2 separate regions of the Homo sapiens genome follow, and region 2 is linked to region 1. The links come from fine-mapping of genetic effects on gene expression. A gene starts in region 1. The other region holds a variant in brackets. All regions are shown on one strand. Distances are from middle to middle.

Evidence for each region.
Region 2: its variant is fine-mapped to the expression of SPIC in blood mononuclear cells (TOPMed, PIP above 0.99).

The regions. Positions count from the first base shown.
Region 1 is chr12:101,469,556-101,481,606 of GRCh38, forward strand. It overlaps SPIC (Spi-C transcription factor), which reads left to right and starts at 5,781. Exons shown (of 6, transcript NM_152323.3): 1 at 5,781-5,947; 2 at 7,273-7,352; 3 at 8,003-8,096; 4 at 10,027-10,139. The coding sequence starts at 7,350. It also overlaps the pseudogene RNA5SP367. RefSeq lists an enhancer at 4,426-5,121.
Region 2 is chr12:101,432,566-101,444,616 of GRCh38, forward strand. No RefSeq gene overlaps it. Among named protein-coding and RNA genes, the nearest start is that of ARL1, 31 kb to the left of the region's middle. The variant A/C (reference allele first, on the strand shown) is at 6,875.

The sequences.
Region 1 (12,051 bases):
AGAGGAAATAAAGTGAAATAATAAAAATATTCAATACAAAAGAAAGTAAGCAAGCAAGAGCAAAGGAACAGAAAATAAGTGGGATCAATAGAAAACAAATAGCAAAATGGTAGACTTAAACCGAGCTATATCAGGAGTTACTACATTGGACTAAACACTAAAAAGGCAGAGATTGTCAAACTAGATTAATAAGCCATCCCCAACTATAAGCTGCTTAAAGCGACATACTTTAAATAGAGAGACACAGACAAGCGGGACAGGTTGCAAGTAAAAATATAAATGGTATATACACTAAGGAGAAGAAAACTGAGGTGGTTAATATCAAAGAAGACTTCAAGACAGGGAGGATTACCAGAAAAAAAAAAGACAGAAATTTTATAATGACAAAAGACTCAATTTATCAAGAACACATAGCAATTAATTATGAGTATGCAGCTAATGAGAAAATTTCAAAATACGTGAAGCAAAAATAGACAGAACTAAAGAAGAGAAATAGACACACTCACAACTATAATTGGAGATTTCCCTTACACTAATTTATAGACCATGAAGACAAAAGAAGCCCCTCAAAATATAAAAGATTTGAACAATATTATCAGCCAACTAGATATAATTGATATTTATCAGCCACTGCATTTTATAGCTGCAAAGTATACATTCTTCCAAGTGCAAATTCAGTCAAAATGGACTCCATGTTGGGCCACGAAACAAGTCTCAGTAAATTTCATAGAATATCTATTGCAAGTAATTATTATTAAAATGAGGGTGAGGGTTAACTATTTGTCTCATAATCTCTGGTTCTATGACTCCTCCTACTCAAATGTGAGGAATTGTTTTTCTTTTTCCTTTTTTTTTTTGAGATGGAGTTTCGCTCTTTGTTTTGCTTTTTGTTTTTGTTTTTTGAAACGGAGTCTCGCTCTTGTAGCCCAGGCTGGAGTGCAATGGCGTGATCTAGGCTCACCGCAACCTCCACCTCCTGGGTTCAAGCAATTCTCCTGCCTCAGCCTCCTGAGTAGCTGGGATTACAGGCACCCGCCACCACGCCCTACCAATTTTGTATTTTTAGTAGAGACGGGGTTTCTCCATGTTGGTCAGGCTGGTCTCGAACTCCCGCCTTGGCCTCCCAAAGTGCTGGGATTGATTACAGGCATGAGCCAGCGTGCCCAGGCTTCCTTTCTTTTTTTAAAAAAATAATTGAGATGGGGGTCTCACTATGTTGACCAGGCTGGTCTTGAACTCCTGGCCTCAAGCGATCCTCTCACTTTAGCCACCCAAAGTAATGAGATTATAGGTGTGAGCCACCGCACCCAGCCAAACATGAGGAGTTTTCTAGCACCTTCTCCCCAGTCTGCTAACAATCTTTATTATTTGCTTATTGGAGTTTCCAAAGATCTTGCCAAGATTAAGACCAAATTCTTTAGTCACTTCAACAACTGAATTATTGAAGAAGAATTTGTGAGGAATGATAAGAGCTTGAACTTGATCTCCCTTTTTGGGTTCTGCAGTTCCCTATTCTCAGAAAACACAGTCTTCCACCTGAAGCGTGTCACCATATGATTTGTACGCCAGCACATGTGTTGCTTAAGATTTTCTAAAATAATCTCCATTGCCACTGAGGACAATGAACTTCTGCAAAAGTGAATCTGTCAATCAGGGATCCTCTCTTCAGAGCCCTTAGCTTGTTACTCAGCTCATTTCTGGAGTTGAGGGAAACATTGGTGTCCATATATTAAATAAATACTGCAGGGGCTCCCAAATTGGAGTTCACTGGCCCTACTGGGAGGGTTTGCCTGAAAATGTGTGCTGATGGCATTTTCCTGGGAAAATAACTGCCAGCTTTCATCAGATTCTCAAGAGATAGGAGTTTTGACTTCTAAAATGCTAAAAGTCTATTGCATTAACTTTTCAAGATGCCAAAACAACTTCACATCTTAGCCCTACAGAGAACCCTAAAGCTGCATTTCTGTTTTTGCATCTGTAACGTAGGGTTGTATATATATACATATATCTCCAACAGGCCGTATGCAGTGTCTCACACCTGTATTCCCAGTACTTTGGGAGGCCGAGGCAGGAGGATGGCTTAAGCCCAGGAGTTCGAGACCAACCTGGGCAACATGGTGAGACCCCATCTCTACAAAAAATGTAAAAATTAGCTCGGCATGGTGGTGCCTGCCTGCAGTCCCAGCTACTTGGGAGGTTGAGGCAGGAGGATCACTTGAGCCTAAGAGGTTGAGGCTTTAGTGAGCTATGATTGCACCACTGCACTCCAGCCTGAGTGACAGAGTGAGACCCTACCTCAAAAAAAAAAAAAAAAAAAAAATCAACACACTCATTGACTTCACTAAGGAAGTTCTAGGCAGCAACCCTAGCTTCCACTCAACACTTTTGCCAGGTTCATTTATTAATATCCTGCATAATCAAACTCTAGAGACAATAGTTGGGGAAATGCTAGCTTAGAAAGTTTACTTGTTGGCCGGTCACGGTGAATCATGCCTGTAATCGTAGCACTTTAGGAGGCCGAGGCTGGAAGATCACTTGAGCTAAGTAAGGAGTTTGAGATCAGCCTGGCCAACATGGTGAAACCCCATCTCTACTAAAAATAGAAAAATTAGCCAGGCATGGTGGCAGGCGCCTGTAATCACAGCTACTTGGGAGGCTGAGGCATGAGAATTGCTTAAACCCAGGAGGTGGAGGTTGCATTAAGCTGATATGGTGCCACTGCACTCCAGCCTGGGCGATAGAGCAAGGCTCACTCTCAAAAAAAAAAAAAAAAAAAATCACTTTTTTATGGCCATAACACCTTGAACAGGCCTGACCTCTTCCGATTTTAGACACCAAGGCGTGTAGGGCCAGTTTAGTACTTGGATGAGATCCCACCTAGAAATATCAGGGTTTTAATTTATTTACATTAAAAAAAAAATAGTCCAGGCGTGGTGGTTCATGCCTGTAATCCCAGCAATTTGGGAGGCCGAGGCAGGCATATCACCTGAGGTCACGAGTTTGAGACCAGCCTGGCCAACATGGTGAAACCCCATCTCTACTAAAAATGCAAAAATTAACCCTGTGCGATGGCGTGGGCCTGTAATCCCAGCTACTCAGGAGGCTGAGGCAGGAGAATCACTTGAACCCGGCAGGCAGAGGTTGCAGTGAGCCGAGATCACGTCACTGAACTCCAGCCTGGGTGACAGAGACTCCATCTTGGAAATAAAAATAAAAATTAAAAATTAAAAAAAAAGAAAGTTCAGGCTGGGTGTAGTGGCTCAGGCCTGTAATCCCAGCACTTTGGGAGGCCAAGGCGGGTGGATCACCTGAGGTCAGGAGTTCAAGACCAGCCTGGCCAACATGGTGAAACCCCATCTCTACTAAAAATACAAAAATTAACCAGCCTGAGTAGCTGGGATTACAGCCTGGCCAATATGGTGAAACCCCGTCTCTACTAAAAATACAAAAATTAGCTGGATGTGGTGGTGGCCTGTAATCCCAGTTACTCGGCAGGCTGAGGCAGGAGAATCGCTTGAACCCAGGAGGTGGAAGTTGCAGTGAGCCAAGATCATGCGATTGCACTCCAGCCTAGGGGACTGAGGGAGACTCTGTCTCAAAAAAAAAAAAAAGTTCACTGTGTTTACATTCATTTCAAATACTCACCACACCTGTAGTATTAATATGTGACAAGCATGGGCTGGGTGCTGTGGAGTTTGCCGTTGGGACTGAGCACCTGGTCGAAGGCAGCCTCAACTGCACACACAGGTCTCCAGGGCTGAGAGCGTGCACATGAAGTGGAATTAACCCAAATTTGGATCTGGCCCAGCCCACCTCACTAGAAGTTGAACCTTAGGGAAAATCACAAAACATCTTTGAACTTCAGTTTAGATTCCTCATCTGTGACATGGGGGTACACAGATAACGACTGCCATACATGACTTGTGATTATTTTAGGGCTTGATGTGTATGTTGATCTGGATCCTGCCTCTTTCTTCTCCAACTTTGCCTCTTAGCCCCCAGGTGCATTTTCCTGCAGCCTCCTCTCCTCCTCCCGCTTTTTTTCTGTGTCTTGAATGCCAAACTCATTTCCATCCCAGGCTCTTTGCACCTGCTGCTTCCTCTGCCAGGAGGTGCTCCTCCAAATATTTGCATCTCTGCTTTTTGTTTTGCTCACTCCTTCATTTTTCTGAGGCAGGGTGGGGAGGCACTCCATTTTTCTTGGGGGTTTCACTGTGCTGTCCAGGCTGGTCTCAAACTCCTGGCCTCAAGCCATCCTCCTGTGTAGCTGCTTAGCGGGGATATAGGCACCAGACACCCTGCCCGCCTGCTCACTCTTAAGTCTTCTTCTTGGGTTTCAGCTCACACCGCTTTCCTCCTCAGAGATTTTTCCTGGCTATTCGCACACTGTCTTCATAATCTTTCTCTTTTGTATTGTTGTTTTTGACACTTCTTATCTAATACTTTACCAATGTGTTTATTTTTTAAAAATCATTTCTTCTCATAAGGATTTGTTCAGGGCTGTAGCTCCTGGACATGGGGCAGTGCCCAGAAGAGTGAAGAGCTCAGTAATATGTTGAACGAATGAACCAAATAAGGTGGCTTGAAAAGGGTGTAGACTAGTACAGATTAAAAACAAATCAACATTAGTGATTACCGTTTTATACCTGTTATTATAAGATCTGCATATCAGAAGAAGGACTGTGTGTTAACATTTGCATAACAAATTGGCTCAAAAAAGTAATTGGTCCAAAACAATAGTCCCCTATCAAAGGTGAGGTTAGGCTCCAACAATGCAAAACTGAAGTTACTGGCAGCTTTGAAATCACAGACCCTCTTCACTCTCCCCACCCACAAGGTTTACAAAAAATTCTTAGGCGGTTTTCCCCCTGGCCAAAATGTGACAGCTATTAAAATGGCAGGTTTCAGGTTAGCCAAGTGAGAGGCAGACATGTGTTTCAGGGGACAGGAAGGTTATTTCCACCGTGTACAAGTGGATGCTGCTTTGGACACTGATGGACAGGTAACATAAAATGGGCGAATCTGCAGGGGGATGAACTGGGAGGAAAGTATTTTAGGTGGAGGGAGCGTCTCATAATTTCCAACAGAGCCACCCCAAATAAACCTTGAAGCCAAGTAAGAGAACGGGACCTGCATTAGGAATGCAGCAGCCTCAGGTATGTCCAACCACATGGCCCCCCATAAGGTTTTCCTAACCATTTTGGAGCCGCTACTGAATTTAGGTGTGGAGGAAAGCAAGAGCATGGATTCTATTATCCCCACTCAACTGAGTGGCAAGATATAAGGCTAAGGCTCAAGAGCCTTGAATGTCAGGACAAGGGCCCTAAGCCTTTAAGCTCTCTAAGGCGATCAGTGAATGGCAGTGTAAGTAAAGTAGTTTAGGAGGAAAGACCGATTTGGAGAGTCCAGAGTGAAGGCTGTTGACAGTCCAGGCAAGAAAGAGAGTATAGAGTCCAGAATTGGGAGAGAAGTAATATGAATTAAAAAAAGAAGGGTGGGCCTGAGTTGCCTGGGTTAGAAGTTTCCGGTGGGGCTATGCAATCTGAAGAGCTGCAACCTAAGTTGGGCGGGGGATTCATGGGGCTTGTTCTAATGCTTTTTTGCTTTTTGGCTGATGGGATGCAAACTACTATGTGCCTCTTCAAAATAATAGCCCCTGGTGTCTACTAATCATATCATGAAATAGAAATTGTGAAGGCACTGTATCTTTTAAAAAAAATCCCCTTTTGAAGAACTTCCTTAAAAACAGCTATTTAATGCAACTCTGCCAGTATGTTCTTGATGGTTATGTCTTAACAATTCTAATTTTTAAAAAAAATATTACTATTTTTTTTCATCAGAGCCATTGCACTGGAAAATAATTTTTTATTTTCATGATAGCCTACCGTTGAATTTACCGTTCTGATATTAATGAAACATCTCTATAAAGGGTTGAAGTGTCTTCCCGGTAAGTTCTCAGCTTATGTTTTTCTAAATATCTTCTAATCACTGTTCATTTTTTCCTTTGGCCTAATGAGTGTTTCTCACTGTCTGCGTGTTCAGATGCAAGAAATATTAAGCAATCATAGTAATCAATAATGTTTTCAAGCTTTTTCTTCCTTTTAGATTTGCTACTTGTAATAGCTGCGATAGTCTTGTGGAGCATTTTAGTCAAAGAGAACATGTTCATTTTTAAATATTTAATTCAAAATACAACATTCAGTGCTTCTGCACTTTTGAGTCAAAGCAGTTAATTGAAAATCACTGACATGGCTTTTAAAAAATATGTGCTACTGATAATATTCACTAAAGACCATGAGCCGAAGAGTGATTTCTGGATTTTCTTCTATTTTCTTTTAACTGACATGATGTAATGATTTCAAAGAGCCAAGCAGAATTTTGATATTTAATATGTTATGTTGATATATGATGGATATATATAATATTGGCATTAGATTACATCATCTCATTTTATTATTCAAAGTTAAACACTAAAGAGTAAACACATTGTGTTTGCGGGTAAATACTAAGAAGATAAATACTTGCATAAAAAGAACTGCTGGGTTTACTTAATGGAATGATAAGCAATTTTGGACCCACCACAGTTCTTTTTATTATGTGGGTTGGTTTTTGTTTGTTTGTTCCCTGTGTTGGTCTATAGAACGTAGAGTTAAAAGCATTTAATTGTGGGTCGGTGTGATAATTGTTTCTCTAAAGCAAAATCAGAATTACTTAGAGATAAGAAAGTAAATAACAAAATTATAGACGAGTTTTCTTAGCCTAGGATTCAAGCAAGTCCAAGGATAGTCTTCACAGGCTAAATTTTATTTGCAATATAAGTCCAATTTTCATGGGAGGAAAAGGATGGCTTTTGCCAGATTCTCAGAAGGCAATATAACACCAAAGAAAGGTTTTTTAAAAAAGCCCTATTTTTATAAAGCTATGCTAAGGTAAAAAGGATTTTGATTTTCAGAATTTTAGAATATTTAAAATAATTTTGAAATACTTATATATACTTTTGAGTTATTTCCACTTTCTCTTATCAATCAAGCAGCTCAGATAATTAAATATATAGCTATTTTAATATTTAAAGCATTTTGTAATCATGGAAAAGCAAAAAGAAATGTTTGTAGAAAATTTCGTAGAAAAAAATTTGTACTCATCAAAGAGAATTCAGGAGGTACTCTTGGTTTATGTAAGGTATTTTCAGAAAATATTTTTGAGCAAGATCTTATTCAGAATCAAATTAGAGACTGCATTTAATTTTGCTTTTTAAATATTAAACTTTTTCAGGATTGTCAACTTATTTTATTTTATTTTCTTCAAGCAACAATTGCTAAGGAACAGAATTGTCAATTTATTAATGAAATATGGTAAGCTGACATTTTAATATTTTCTTTACTCTGTCCACAGAGGAGCTCTACAGCATAATAATTAAAAAACTTTTTTCTTTACTCTCCCTCCATTTTAAAAATAAAATATATCGATCATGTTAATAAGGATATGAAATAGTTTGCAAAGCAATTCAATTTTAGGTCTTGGAGACATAAGAGCATTTCATTTTTAAACAACAATTCATAGGTTCTGTTTCATTGAAGATATTTCCTTGGCCCTTTTTTTCTAAATCACTCTCCTCTGCTCTACAACTCCTTGCTAAAATTTTGCAATAATGTTAAATACTGTACTATAGAATGAATACCATTCTCTAAATAGTATACTATAATGGAGTGTGTTTCAACTGTGATTGATTTTGTGCCTCAGGGTACATTTGGTGATGTCGGAAACATTTTTGACGGTCACAACTGTGAAGGTACTACTGGCAACCAGTGGGTAGGGGTCAGGGAAGCTGCTAAACATCGTACAATGCACAGGCAGCCCCCCTGACAACAGAGACAGCCAACACCAAATGCCCATAGTGTCAAGATTGAGAAACCCTCCTTTAGACTAAATACTATTTTAAATCAGGGAGATTAAGTTTAATTGGTAATTCGAAAACTCCAGAATTCTATCATTGTTCCAACAGACGTGTGTTGAACAAGACAAGCTGGGTCAAGCATTTGAAGATGCTTTTGAGGTTCTGAGGCAACATTCAACTGGAGATCTTCAGTACTCGCCAGGTAAAGATGAGTCATTTACCCTCTTCTGCTGGTACATCAAATGGCTTGTTGGTCACATACACATATAAGAATAATGATCAGCTGACCAGGTGCTGTGGCTCACATCTGTAATCCCAGCACTTTGGGAGGCCAAGGTGGGCAGATCACTTAAGACCAGGAATTCAAGACCTGCCTGGCCAATATGGCGAAACCCTGTCTCTACTAAAAATACAAAAATTAGCTAGGCATGGTGGCGCGACTGTAATCCCAGCTACTCTGGGGGCTGAGGCTTAAGAATTGCTGAACCTGAGAGGCAGAAGCTTTAGTAAGCCGAGATGGCGCCACTGTATTCCAGGATAATGATCAGAACAGAGAAGACCTTTTTTTTCTTTTTTCTTTTTTCTTTTTTTTTTTTTTTTGAGACGAAGTCTCACTCTGTCGCCCAGGCTGGCGTGCAGTGGCGCGATCTCGGCTCACTGCAAGCTCCTCCTCCCGGGTTCACGCCATTCTCCTGCCTCAGCCTCCCGAGTAGCTGGGACTACAGGCGCCCGCCACCATGCCCATCTAATTTTTTGTATTTTTAGTAGAGACGGGGTTTCACCGTGTTAGCCAGGATGTTCTCGATCTCCTGACCTCGTGATCCGCCCATCTCGGCCTCCCAAAGCGCTGGGATTACAGGCATGAGCCACTGTGCCCGGTGACCTTTTTTATCTTTAATTTAATTTTTATTTGTTTATTTTTTTGTAGAGACAGGGTCTCACTATGTTGCCCAGGCTGGTCTGGAACTCCTGGACTCAAAAACGAGATCATTTTTACCTGAAGCATCCAGGATTAATTCTAGCAAAGGCAAAATATGTCCAGGAGTATCTAGCCTAAATAAAACTAAAGTCTCACATATAAAAATGCAGAGAATATAGAGGATGACATTCCACACAGAAATACAAAGATATATAATTATCTGCTATTAGAAATATCTGGTTGACATTTATTTATCTAATAGACAGTTCATTTTAACTATTCACGAAAGGCTTTTAAATTGTTCCAATGAATCTTATAGACCTTCCACCCACACAACAAGATATATTCTACTTGGAAGAATAAGTATTTTTATCCTTCCTCACCCATTATCCTATGGACTATATAGTCTAAATAGAATGCAAATATGTTATGTATTAAGTTTATATAGGGTATTACAGGGTGTTCCAAGATAAGAGAAATCATGTGGGCAGGGCATGGTGGCTCACACCTGTGATTCCAGCACTTTGGGAAGCCAAGGTGGGTGGATCACTTGAGCCCAGGAGTTCAAGACCAGCCTGGGCAACATGGCAAAACCCTGTCTCTACAAAAAATACAAAAATTAGCCAAGTGTGGTGGCGTGTGCCTGGAGTCCCAGCTACTTGGGAGGCTGAGGTGGGAGGATCACTTGAGGCCAGGAGGCACAGGCTGCAGTGAACCGAAATAACGTGGCCGCACTCCAGCCTGGGTAACAGAGCAAGACCCTGTCTTAAAAAAAAAAAAGAAAGAAAAGAAAGAAAGAAAGAAAAAGAAAGAAAGAAAGAAAGAAAGAAAGAAAGAAAGAAAGAAAGAAAGAAGGAAAGAAAGAAAGAAAGAAAAAGAAAGAAAGAAGGAAGGAAAGAAAGAAAGAAAGAAAGAAAAAGAAAGAAAGAAAGAAAGAAAAAAGAAAGAAAGAAAGAAAGAAAGAAAGAAAGAAAGAAAGAAAGAAAGAAATCATGCGGTTTCAGCCTGCAAGGAGCATGTTCTCCAAATGGGATATGTATAACAGTATCCATAATAGCAGCATAATGAGATAAACACCACAGGAGAAGTGCAAAGTGGCAAGAAAACATAGATGAGAGCAATTGCATCTATAAGTGCATATATATACACACATATTTATATGCACAAATACAAACTTTGACTTTTTTAGTTTCTTTCTCTGATTTAAAATTAGATTACAGAAATTACCTGGCTTTAATCAACCATCGTCCTCATGTCAAAGGAAATTCCAGCTGCTATGGAGTGTTGCCTACAGAGGAGCCTGTCTATAATTGGAGAACGGTAATTGTAAGTATCAGACCATCCCTTAATAACAGGCAAATATCCTATTCTTGCCAGCCTTCCATTTCACATACACTGTCTGAAACCCAGCTTAAAGACAGCATTGACTATGAAAATGGTTTTTTCTTTCTTTTTTTTTTTTTTTTGAGATGGAGTCTGGCTCTGTCACCCAGGCTGGGGTTCAGTAGCTCAATCTCAGCTCACTGCAACCTCTGCCTCCCAGGTTCAAGTGATTCTCCTGCCTCAGCCTCCCAAGTAGCTGGGGTTACAGGCGTGCACCACAATGCCCAGTTAACTTCTGTATTTTTAGTGGAGACAGGATTTCCACATATTGGCCAGGCTGGTCTCAAACTCCTGACTTCAGGTGATCCACCAGCCTCAGCCTCCCAAAGGGAAGGATTACAGGCGTGAGCCACTGTGCTCTACCTGAAAATGCTTTTTAAGGGCCATCAGCTGTAGTCTGAACTTGACAGTCAACATGGATGATCACATGCTGTTAGGAAGGAAATAACCCTTCATCATTGCTCTCTACTTAGCCTCAGACTGGTTTGGATGACTTCGTAAAAAGGAGGTGTTTTCAGGATGTTAATATCAGTTGCTTCTCCTTAGTCCATCTGGGAAATTGCAAAAAGTTTCCCCTAAAAGCCACAGGGCAAAGATCCAAACTGCCCCTGCACTGGTTTTACCTACAGTCTTGTATTAGACTGCTCTGTTTTCCTTCTCAAACTCAGTGTTATCTGCATGTATTGGACCAATTCATTGATATTTTATTAATAGCAGCATCTGCAAAGGGAAACACCCTGCCATCTCCCCATTCATGTATTCTTTTAGTTGTCTTCTTCATGCATCCATTTTATCAAGCGGTCTTCATGGGATGAGGTATAAATGTGAATTGGTTTTTATTTTTCTTCAGTCACTACCTTCAATCACACCATGTCAAATGTCCTTTTTCTGTTTCTATAAATTGTTCCCTTGGGGCCTCTTCACAAGACATTTTATTTTAAGAGAGTGCTTTGGGCTGGGCTCAGTGGCTCACGCCTGTAATCCCAAAGTTTTGGGAGGCTGAGGAGGAAGGATCACTTGAGCCCAAGAGTTCGAGACCAACCTGGGCAACAGAGCAAGACCCTGTCTCAAAAAAAAATTTTGTAAATAAAAATTTTAAATAGAGGGTGCTTTGGTTCCAGCTTAACCTCTTCCACCTCCACTTAGGGTTGCCAGGTAAAATGCAAGATGCCCAATATTTTGTTTGCTAAATCTGGCAACCCTTCTTCTTTCTACTTCAGCTCCCATTTTCTAGCATGTGCCTCACAGCCTCTTATCCCTGGGGACTCCTTGCCTGCTGGTCAGCCTTCTTGATTGGGGTGTGGAAAGACAGCTCAAGCCCAGCCCCTTCCGGTGTTTAACCCTTGGAAACCCACATATTCTTCTTGCCATATGTAAATGGTAGAAGCTTGGGCTGCTTCTTCCTGTCCCCTTTCTTTATTCTGCCTTCCCTTGGCTGTCATCTTTTTTTTTTAAGACAGGGTATTTTTCTCTCACCTAGGTTGGAGTGCAGTGGTGCGATTATAGCTCACTGAAGCTTCAAATTCCTGGGGTCAAGGGATCCTCCTGCCTCAGCTTCCCAAGTAGCTGGGACTATAGACATGTGCCACCAGGCCTGGGTAATTTTTAAATATAAATTTTTTTGTTCTGTTGCCCAGGCCGTAGTGCAATGGCACCATCTCGGCTCACTGCAACCTCTGCCTCCTGGGTTCAAGCGATTCTCCTGCCTCGGCCTCCCAAGTAGGTGGGATTACAGGTGCCCACCACCACCCACAGCTAATTTTTTTTTTTTTTTTGAGATAGAGTTTCACTGTTGTCACCCAGGCTGGAGTGCAATAGTGTGATCTCGGCTCACTGCATCCTCCGCCTCCCAGGT
Region 2 (12,051 bases), 37 kb before region 1:
GGAGCGAGACTCCATCTCAAAAAAAAAAAAAAAAAAAAAAAAAAATCTTTATAGCTGAGTGCGGTGGCTCACACCTGTAATCCCAGCATTTTGGGACGCTGAGGCAGGCGGATAACCTGAAGTCAGGAGTTCGAGACCAGCCTGGCCAACATGGTAAGACCTTGTCTCTACTAAGAATACAAAAAATTAGCCAGGTGTGGTAGTGGTGCCTGTAATCCCAGCTGCTCAGGAGGCTGAGGCAGGAGAATCGCTTGAACCTGGGAGGCAGTGGGTACAGTGAGCCAAGATTGCGCCATTGCACTCCAGCCTGGGAGAGTGAGACTCCATCTCCAAAATAAATAAATAAATAAATAAATCTTTATAAACAACACCATTAAGTAAATACTATTATTCTTCCATATTTTAAAGGCAATGAAATTGAAGCTTAGGTAAGTTAAGCAATTTGCCCAAGGTGCATAGCTAGTAAGCAGCAGAGCTAGAATTAGAGTCCAAGCTGTCTGACATCAGAACCAGACCTCCTCAGCACTATTTCTGTGCTCTGCCTCTGGGAAAAAAAAAAACTGGCCTACCCAAAATAAGAAATTTCCTTATAAAAAGAAATAACACATACACACATACACATATGAAAACTGAAAATATTTACAAATTATTCTCTAAATGGCGTGTTCTTCTTTTCCTATTATTTGGGAAGAGTAAGTACGTCATCAATACTATGAGAAACTTCAGAGTAATTCACCAGTATTTTTTTTTTTCTTTGAGGCAGGGTCTTACTCTGTCACCCAGGCTGGAATGAAGTAGTGTGATCTTGGCTCACTGCAGCCTCAACCTCCAGGCTCAAGCAATCCTCCCACTTGGGACTACAGGCATGTGCCACTATGCCTGGCTATTTTTTTTTTTTTAATGTTTTGGTAGAGTTGAAGTCTCACTATGTTGTCCAGGCTGAGTCATTTTCAATTTCAATTTTATTTTTGCAATGCATCATTTTAAATATATATATATATATATCTACAACCCTAACTTCCTCACCCAGAATCTCCTTCTCAGAACTAATCACTTTTTTTTTTTTTTTTGAGATAGACTTTTGCTCTTATTGCCCAGGCTGGAGTGCAATGGTGCGATCTCGGCTCACCGCAACCTCCACCTCCCAGGTTCAAGCGATTCTCCTGCCTCAGCCTCCCAAGTAGCTGGGATTACAGGCATGCACCACGACACCCGGCTAATTTTGTATTTTTTAGTAGAAACGAGGTTTCTCCATGTTGGTCAGGCTGGCCTCGAAATCCCAACCTCAGGTGATCCACCCTCCTTGGCCTCCCAAAGTGCTGGGATTACAGGCGTGAGCCGCTGCGCCTGGCCAAACTAATTACTATTAATGGTCTTGTGTTTCTTTCTAAATGTATTATATGCATATACAGATGCATGCATATTTCCTTTAATATAAATAGCAGCATAATATTTACACTGTTCTGTATCTTTTTACACTTAAAAATAACATATCTTGGCAAATATTCTGTATCAATACATGTAGAGTTACTTCGTTCTTTTCAACAGCTGTAAAACATTCTGTTGGGGAGATACTGGGAAGAAGATGAACTGAAAAGGGAGAAATTTATTAACAATAATACATAGCATTTCTCAGGCTCTGTTTTCTATGCATAAAACTGTAAGACTCCTAACCCCCATGCAAAGCCCATGCGTGCGTGTTCTCTCAGCCTACAATGGGGAGATATTCAGGTGCACTCTCCGATGTGCCAACACACAGAAAGGTTCAAGCCGTGCAGGGTAGTCCTTTCCCCATCACGTCTCATAAAAACTTCTGTGTCAAGTCAAAAGAACTTACTCGGCCGGGTGCAGTGGCTCATGCCTGTAATCCCAGCACTTTGGGAGGCTGAGGCGGGCAGATCACTTCAGGTCAGGAGTTTGAGGCCAGCCTGGCCAACATGGTGAAAACTTGTCTTCTAAAGATACAATAATTAGCCGGGCGTGGTGGCACGTGGCTGTAGTCCCAGCTACCTGGGGGGCTGTAGAATTGCTTGAACCGGGAGGGGGAGGTTGCAGTGAGCTGAGATCGAGCCACTGCACTCGAGCCTGGGAGACAGAGTAAGATGTCTCCAAAAAAAAAAAAAAAAAAAAGAGAAAAAAAAAAACTTAGTTCTGGTTTCAACATGATACATAAACTCTTCAAATCTGAGCGAGTAGCAACATGCAACATTCAGAATTGGCTTTGTCCTACAGTAACTAAGTGATTCCTTAGAATAAGAACCTTCTTAGAAGGCTCCTGATCTTTCATGCAAATAGACCTCTGGTGGGCCCTCTCTAGCTAACCTCCCAACAGTCCCATTAGGGTCTCAATCCGTTTAATGAAACGGTAACCATTGGCTCAAGATGAGTGATTCCAGTCTTCCCTGCCATCCCCTAAATACACACAATGAGGTGCTCCTGTAGAGTCAGCGCACCTCCTGTAAGCCTCATTGGCAGGCATGGAGAAAAGAGACTTCCATTAATGGACACCAAAGTTGGTGTTATTGCTCTCACTTACAGCTGAGGAAAGTGAGGTTAAGTACTAGCTAAGGAAAGAAGTGAGGCTGAAGTATTCATACAGGGGACAGTTATTAGTCTTCTGTTCCCACAAACTGCCTCTCCAGGGCTGGAGAACCCCTGTCTATCCACAACCATTCCAAGCACAACCTGTATTCACACTCCTATTAAATTATAAGTTTATCATGTACAGCTGTGTGCCCTTGGGCACTATGCATGTTTGATCATTCATTCATTCAATAAATATTCATCCCAGCACTTTGGGAGGCCAAAGCAGGTGGGTCACTTGAGGTCAGGAATTCAAGACTAGCCTGGCCAACATGGCAAAACCCTGTCTCTACTAAACATACAAAAATTAGCCGGGTGCGGTGGCTTATGCCTGTAATCCCAGCACTTTGGGAGGCCAAGGTGGGCAGATCACCTGGGTCAGGAATTTGAGACCAGCCTGGCCAACATGGCAAATCCCTGTCTTTACTAAAAATACAAAAATTAGCTAGGGATGGTGGCGGACGCCTGTAATCTCAGCTACTGGGGAGGCTGAGGCAGGGGAATCACTTGAACCCCGGGAAGCAGAAGTTGCAGTGAGCCAAGATTGCACCACTGTACTCCAGCCTGGGTGACAGAGCAGACTCCATCTCAAAAATAAATAAATAAGGCTGGGCATGGTGGCTCATGCCTGTAATCCCAGCACTTTGGGAGGCCAAGGCAGGTGGATCACCTGAGGTCAGGAGTTTAAGACCAGCCTGACCAACATGGAGATGCTCCGTCTCTACTAAAAATATAAAATTAGCCAGGTGCGGTGGCGCATGCCTGTAACCTCAGCTACCCGGGAGGCTGAGGCCGGAGAATCGCTTGAACCTGGAAGGTGGAGGTTGCGGTGAGGCGAGATCATACCATTGCACTCCAACCTGGGCAAGAAGAGTGAAACTCCATCTTAAAAATATATATAAATAAAAATAAATAAATAAATAAATATTTACTGAGTCCTGGCCATTGAGCCCAGGCATGCTTTCTCCTGGGGCTTTGTCCCAAAAGAGGCACAACTTGAAGCTTTCAACATGTAAACAAGTAGGTAAGTAAGATATATACAGTTAGCAATAAATTCTCTGGAGGAGAGGAAGGGTAAGGTGATAAAGTGTAACTAGGAAGAAGAGGCTGTTTTAGATAGAAGGGCCAGGAAAGGGCTCAAAGAAGGTGACATTCCAGCTGAAGCCTGAAGTGTGGGAGGTAAGAAGGAACCAGTCATGCAAAGACTGAGGATAAGCATATAGGCACAGTGTACAGCAGCTGCTGGACCTGTTTGGCTCATTTCAGCATAGCACAATGTGTCACTCAAAATATACCTTTCAAATAAAAATGAATCCACATTGCTTTGCCAAGGACTAAAACATATTTTAAGGCCAAGTATTACCATAAAATTTTACTTAAAATATATTGAAATAGGCTGGGCGCAGTGGCTCATGCCTCATGCCTGTAATTCCAGCACTTCGGGAGGCCGAGGCAGGTGGATCACCTGAGTTCAGGAGTTCAAGACCAGCCTGACCAACATAGGGAAACCCCATCCCTACTAAAAATAACAAAAATTAGCCAAGCGTAATCCCAGCTACTTGGGAGGCTGAAGCAGGAGAATCACTTGAACCTGGGAGGCAGAGGTTGCAGTGAGCTGAAATCGTGCCTGGGCAACAAGAGTAAAACTCTGTCTCAAAAAAAAAAAAACAATTAAAATACTTTATATTATTACATTTATTTATTTATTTATTTATTTATGTATTTTGAGACGTAATTTTGCTCTTTGTTGCCCAGACTAGAGTGCAATGGCACAATCTTGGCTCCCTGCAACCTCCACCTCCTGCCTCCCGAGTTCAAGTGATTCTCCTGCCTCAGCCTCCCAAATAGCTAGGATTACAGGTGTGCACCACCACACCCAGCTAATTTTGCATTTTTAGTAGAGATGGGTTTTCACCATGTTGGTCAGGCTGGTCTCGAACTCGTGACCTCGAGAGATCCACCTGCCTAAGCCTCCCAAAGTGTTAGGATTACAGGCATGAGCCACTATGCCCAGCATTACATTATTTTAATAAATTTTTTAATGTGTATTATAATGATAACCTTGGCTAGGCCAGATGGCTCACACCTATAATTCCAAGCACGTTGGGAGACCAAGACATGCAGATCGCTTGACCCCAGGAATTCAAGACCAGCCTGGGCAATATGGCAAAACCCCATCTCTATAAAAATTTTTTTAAAAATCATTAAAAAAAATATATATATATAAGTGATTATCTCTATTTGATATTGACTGAGTCAGCATAATATATTCTTTCACGATCCTATGATATGTTGAACTCTGTGTGATAAAATAGTGATGCAAAGAAAGTTTATTTAAAAATGAATGCTGGGGCCAGGCATGGTGGCTGACACCTGTAATCCCAGCACTTTGGGAGGCCAAGGCGAACGGATCACTTGAGGTCAAGAGTTTGAGACCAGCCTGGGCAACATGGTAAAACCCCATCTCTACTAAAACTACAAAAATTATCCAGGCATGGTGGTGCATGCCTGTAGTATCAGCTACTTCAGAGGCTGAGGTAAGAGAATAGCTTGAACCCGGAAGGCAGAGGTTGCAGTGAGCCAAGAGTGTGCCACTGCACTGCAGCCTGGGTGACAGACTGAGACTCTGTCTCAAAAAAAAAAATTTTTTTTTAATGAGTACTGGGTTGAGAATCAAAGACCAAGGTTCTAGTACCCGGTTCTCTCTCTCTCTCTTTTTCTTTTTTTTTTTTTGAGATGGAGTCTTGCTTTGTCGGCCAGGTTGGAATGCAGTGGCATGATCCCAGCTCACTGCAACCTTCACCTACCAGGTACAAGAGATTCTCCTGCCTCAGCCTCCTGAATAGCTGGGATTACAGGTACCTGCCACCATGCCCTGCTAATTTTTGTATTTTTAGTAGAGATGAGTTTCACCATCTTGGCCAGGCTAGTCTCGAATTCCTGACCGCAAGTGATCATCCACCTTGGCCTCCCAAAGTGTTGGGATTATAGGTGTGAGCCACCGTGCTGGGCCCCAGACTCTCTTTTAAACCAACTTTATGTTTTGGGACCAGCCAGTTAACCTAAGTTAGGCAACCTGGTTTTCCTTTTTGAGCAGCATCAACAGCTTGGGATAGATCAGCGATTTTTGAAACAGTTCTATGATGCCTTTGGAGGGCCAGATGCGAGGCACAGTCTCAGTTACCTTCCCCACTACGGTAGCTTTCCTGTGTTTTATATGTTGACATTTCATGTGACAGTCTGTTGTAGGAATATGTTCCACTGGTTAAAAAAGAAAAAGATTTGAAAACCACTGGATCCTCAAATTTCCTTCTGTAATACAAGATATGGATAGAATTGTGAAGAATTTTTTTCTCTTTTCTTAGAATTCCTTACAAACTATATGTGTACATCATATTTGAGACAACTCAAGAATAATATGAAATATGGGAGCTAAGCTATGAGGATGCAAAGGCATAAGAATGATACAATGGACTTTGGGGGCTACACATTGAGTACAGTGTACACTCCTCGGGTGACGGGTGCACCAAAATCTCAGAGATTACCACTAGAGAACTCATCCATGTAACCAAAATCCACCTGTTCCCCAAAAACTATTGAAATAAGAATAGTTAAAAAAATAATAATTTCATTGACCAGCAAAAGAAAAGAATAACATGAAATAAAGTGAATTGGCCGGGCGTGGTGGCTCATGCCTGTAATCCTAGCACTTTGGGAGGCTGAGGCGGATGGATGACCTGAGATCAGGAGTTCGGGACTAGCCTGGCCAACATAGTGAAACCCCATCTCTACTAAAAATACAAAAAGTTAGCCAGGCGTGATGGTGGGCACCTGTAATCCCAGCTGCTTGGGAGGCTGAGGTGGGAGAATTGCTTGAACCTGGGAGGTGGAGGTTGCAGTGAGCTGAGATTGCACCATTGCACTCCAGTATGGGCAAGAAGAGCGAAACTCTGTCTGTAAATAAATAAATAAATAAATAAATAAATAAAGTGAATTATTTCACTTGAATGAATGCAGAAAATATATTTACTTTTAATATAAATATGACATTTTCCTCCAAGAACACAGAACATTAACCAAAGTTCCTTGCCCTTTCAATTAAAAAAAATGTAATTGTTTCTGATTTAAATTCTACTTGTTCTATCAGAATTGTTGAGAATATTCTACACACATTCGAATGGACTTCTTTTCTCCTTTCAAAATACTGACAATATTTAACAATAAGGAAGGAAATGCCAATCTGGCAAAATGCGGGATGTGAAAATGGTGCTATGGGCATGAGAAAACTCCT[A/C]CTATTAAGTTAGCAAGTTTCGAGTCCTTTACAAAAAGAAGAACTGACTTATTAATACCAGCTTTGCTTAGTCATGTCATTTTTTTAAAGTTATTTTGCTGTTATGTATTGACTTTTTCGCTGGCATCAACGTGGGAATCAATGTCACATGAATTCATGTTCATGCTAATTTTTTCTTGTTCTTTTTGTCTTTAACAGCTATCTGAGGTACACAGATGTTATGGATCTGGTAGCAAAGACCTTCAGTCATTCAAAAAAATTCACACTCCTTTCTTCTCTTGTTTGAAGTACTTAGACTATGCTTCTTTCTTTAGAGTATGCAAGACCATTGTTGCATGGTATAGTGCTTCATAATAGGTAGTGAACATATTTAGTAATGAACATGTCAGGCACTCATTGTTATCCCCTGAAAACACTGTGCAGTAAAGTTATTTTTCCTTGACTTTTCTTTAAATTAAAAAAAAATTTTTCTTTGAAACAGGTCTTGTTCTGTCACCCAGGCTGGAGTGCAGTGGCTCAATCACAGCTCACTGCAGTTTGACTTCCTGGGCTCCAGCAATCCTCCTACCTCAGCCTCCCAAGTAGCTGGGACCACAAGCACGAGCCACACACACCTGGTTAATTTTTGTATTTTTTATAGAGACGGGTTTTTACCATGTTGCCCAGGCTGGTCTCAAACTCCTGAGTTCTATGACACTGTGTCCGGCTTGATCTTTGATTTTGGGTCCCCTTGGCCTGGCAGCCAGGGTCTTCCTAGGGCATCCCTATTTCTGGACCCCAACCTGTCTGCATTCTCTGGCCAAGTCCCTCAAACTCCAGGTCTTTCTGAACTCCTTCCTTAGCGTCCAGTGACTTCAACATGAGCAAAACTGTCTCAAAAAAAAGAAAAGAAAAGAAAAGAAAAAAAGAAATTCACACTCAAGTATTAGATAGGAATGGCCGGGCGTGGTGGCTCACGCCTGTAATCCCAGCACTTTGGGAGGCCAAGGCGGGTGGATCACGAAGTCAGAAGATCGAGACCATCCTGGCTAACACGGTGAAACCCCGTCTCTACTAAAAATCCAAAAAAATTAGCCGGGCGTGGTGGCGGCCGCCTGTAGTCCCAGCTACTCGGGAGGCTGAGGCAGGAGAATGGCGTGAACCTGGGAGGCAGAGCTTGCAGTGAGCCGAGATCGCGCCACTGCAGTCCAGCCTGGGCGACAGAGCGAGACTCCATCTCAAAAAAAAAAAAAAAAAAAAAGTGTTAGACAGGAAAAAAAAAGTGGTATTGTTTCCAAGTAAACACATTCATTGTCATTCAATAGTTTTCTGAAGAGTTATGAATACCATGGGATTTCAGGTAGTTAGAAGGAGATGTTATCCCATTACCAGCTTTCTTAGCATTCTTTTCAAATGCCACCACAGAGAGGGCCATCTTTGCTAAATGAATGTAAGCTGCCTTTTTCTTATTCAATGAAACTTGCTTACTCATAGCTCACAAAGTTCCTCTGAAGATGATTAGTAAGCAATATTTCAAAGTTTCAGCAAAAACATTGAAGGAGGCTACCCATGACTATTGAATTCACATTAGCAGTATGAAAAGAAGTCACATTGCCGTATCAGCTAGCCAATGTTCCTGCTAAATTGTTTTTTTCCATTAAAAAACTGCTTACACACATAAAGAGAAAGGACTTCACAAAGAAATATAGAATATTAGAGCTGGAAGGGAGCTTTATGATCATCTAAGCCAATGTACTTATATAGAAAAAAATGAGGCTATTAAGTTACCAAAGATCATCCAGCTGGTGGTAGATCTCATTTCTCAGCTACAGGCTCTCATAGCACCCTGGTTCCCTCTTTTCTTTAGAGCATGACACCAGTAACACTTTTCAAAAAATTAATACATAATAGTTGTACATATTTTGGGGGTGCATGTGATATTTTTATACATACATACAATGTGTAATGATCAAATCAGAGTGATTGGGGTATCCATCTCCTCAAACATTTATTATGTTGGAAACATTCCAATTCTTCTCTTCTAGCTATTTTGAAATATATAATATATTGCTGTTAACTATAGTCACCCTACTGTACTATCAAACATAAGATCTTGTTCTTTCTAATTGTACTTTTGTACCCATTCACCAATCTCTCTTCCTTGTCCCCTGCCCCACTTCTCTTGCCAGCCTCTGGTAACCACCAATCAACTCTCTACCTCTATGAGATCCACTTTTTAAGCTCCCACATATGAGTGAGATCATGTGGTATTTGTCATACTGTGCCTGGCTCATTTCACTTAACATAATAACCTCCAGTTCCATCCATGTTGCTGCATTTTACAGGATTTTACTCTTATGTATGGCTGAATAATATTTCATTATATATGTACCATATTTTCTTTAACTATTTATCCATTGGTGGACACTCAGGCTGATTCCACATCTTGGCTATTGTAAATGGTGCTGCAATAAACATGGGAGTGCAGATAATTCTTCCATACTGTGATTTCCTTTCTTTTGGATATATACCCAGCAGTGGGATTGCTACATGATATGGTAGTTCTATTTTTAGTTTTTTGAGGAACTGCCATACTGTTCTGCATAGTGGTTGTATTAATTTACAATCCCACCAACAGTGCACAAGCATTTCCCTTTTTCCACATCCTCATCAGCATCCATTATTTTTTGTCTTTTTGGTTATAGCCATTTTAACTGGAATGAGATAATATCTCAGTTTGGTTTTGATTTGCATTTGTCTGATGATTAATGATGTTGAGCATTTTTTCACATATACTTGTAAGCCATTTGTCTTCTTTTTGAGAAACGTCTATTCAGATCTTTTGTTCATTTTAAAATCAGATTATCCTTTTTTTTGCTATTTGGTTGTTTGAGTTCCTTACATATTTTGGCTATTAAATATTTTCTCCCATTCTGTAAACTCTCTTTTCATTTTGTTGATTGTTTCCTTTGCTGTGCAGAAGCTTTTTAGCTTGATGTAATCCCATTTGTCTATTTTTGTTTTTGTTGCCTGTGCTTTTGAGGTCTTACCCAAAAAGTCTTTGCCCAGACCAATGTCCTGAAGCATTTCCCAATGTTTTCTTCTAGTAGTTGCATAGTTTCAGGTCTTAGATTTAAGTCTTTAATCCATTTTGATTTGATTCTTATATATGGTGAGAGATAGGGGTCTAGCTTCATTCTTCTGCATAGGGTTATCCTATGCAGTTTTCCCATCACCATTTATTAAAGAGGCTGTCCTTTCCCCAACGTATCTTCTTGGTGCCTCTGTCAAAAATGAGTTGACTGTAAATTTGCGGTTTTGTATCTGAGTTATCTATTGTGTTCTGTCGGTCTATGTGTCCGTTTTTATGCCAGTGATACATCCACTTGTCATTATTTCATTAATGCCTGTCTCCCCCACTAGACTATTCCTTCTTGAATGCAAGAACCCCGTATTGGCCAGGCGCAATGGCTCACATTAGTAATCCCAGCACTTTGGAAGGCCGAGGCAGGTGGATCACTTGAGATTAGGAGTTCGAGACCAGCCTGGCCAACATGGTGAAATCCCATCTCTACTAAAAGTATAAAAATTAGTCAGGCACGGTGGCACGCCCCTGTAGTCTCAGCTACTCAGGGGACTGAGGCAGGAGAATTGCTTGAACTCAGGAGGTGGAGGTTGCAGTGAGGTGAATCGAACCACTGCACTCCAGTCTAGGCTAGAGAGGGAGATTCTGTCTCGAAAAAACAAACAACAACAACAACAACAAAAACCCTGTCTAGTTTTCCTTGCTGTTTGACAGTACAGTGTCAGATATGTAGTCAGTGCTCAGTAAATATGTGTTGAATGAGTATCAGGAAACACAGAATAAACTATCGATAAACTATCAATAAACATACAATCAATAGTATACTTAGACTGGGCATGGTGGCTCACATCTGTAATCCCAGCACTTTGGGAGGCTGAGGTGGGAGGATCATTTGAGCCCAGGAGTTCAAGATCAGCCTAGGCAACATAGTAAGACCCCATCTCTACAAAAAGTTTGTTTATTTATTTACATTTTTTGCGATGGAGTTTTGCTTTCATTGCCCAGGCTGGAGTGCAGTGGCACAATCTTGGCTCACTGCAACCTCCACCTCCTGGGTTCAAGTGATTCTCCTGCTTCAGCCTCCCAAGTAGCTGGGACTACAGGCAAGCGCCACCACTCCCAGCTAATTTTGTATTTTTATTAGAGATGGAGTTTCACCATGTTGGCCAGGGTGGTCTCGAACTCCTGACCTCAAGTGATCCATCCACCTCGGCCTTCCAAAGTGCAGTGATTACAGGTGTGAGCCACCAAGCCCGGCCTTATTTATTTATTTTATTTTATTTTATTTTTTTGAGATGGAGTCTTGCTCTGTCACCCAGGCTGGCATGCAGTGGCGCAGGGTCTCAGCTCACTGCAACCTCTGCTTCCTCAAGTGATTCTCCTGCCTTAACCTTCCAAGTAGCTGGGATTACAGGCACCCACCACAATGCCCAGCTAATTTTGTATTTTTAGTAGAGGTGGGTTTTTGCGATGTTAGCCAGGCTGGTCTCAAACTCCTGACCTCAAGTGATCCGCCCGCCTCGGCCTCCCAAAGTGCTGAAATTACTGGTGCAAGCCATTGCGTCTGGTCCCCCAATTTATTATTTTTTTAAATTAACCAGGTGTGGTGGCACTCGCCTATAGTCCCAGCTACTCGTGAGGCTGAGGTGAGAGGATCATTTGAGCCCAGGAGGTTGAGGCTGCAGTGAGCTGTGATTGCACCACTGCACTACAGCCTGGACTATAAAGTGAGACCCCGACTCAAAAAAAAAAAAAAAGGAAAAAAGAAAAAGAAAAAGAAAAAAGAAAAACAACCATAAAAACTTGTATATTTAGTCTGTGGAATAATTGTCAAACTATCATTCACACCTTATATGGACATGCTACTTACATTAGTCCAGGATATGTTAGATTCTGCTGCAGTAAAATACAAACCTTGATATGTCTGTGGCTGGAGACAAAAAGATTTACCTTTTTTTTTTTTTTTTTTTTTTTTAGAGAGAGTCTCGCTCTGTTGCTCAGGCTGGAGTGTAATGGCACAATCTCAGCTCGCTGCAACCTCCACCTCCCGGGTTCGAGCGATTCTTCTGCCTCAGCCTCCTGAGTAGGTGGGATTATAGGCATGCGTCACCAC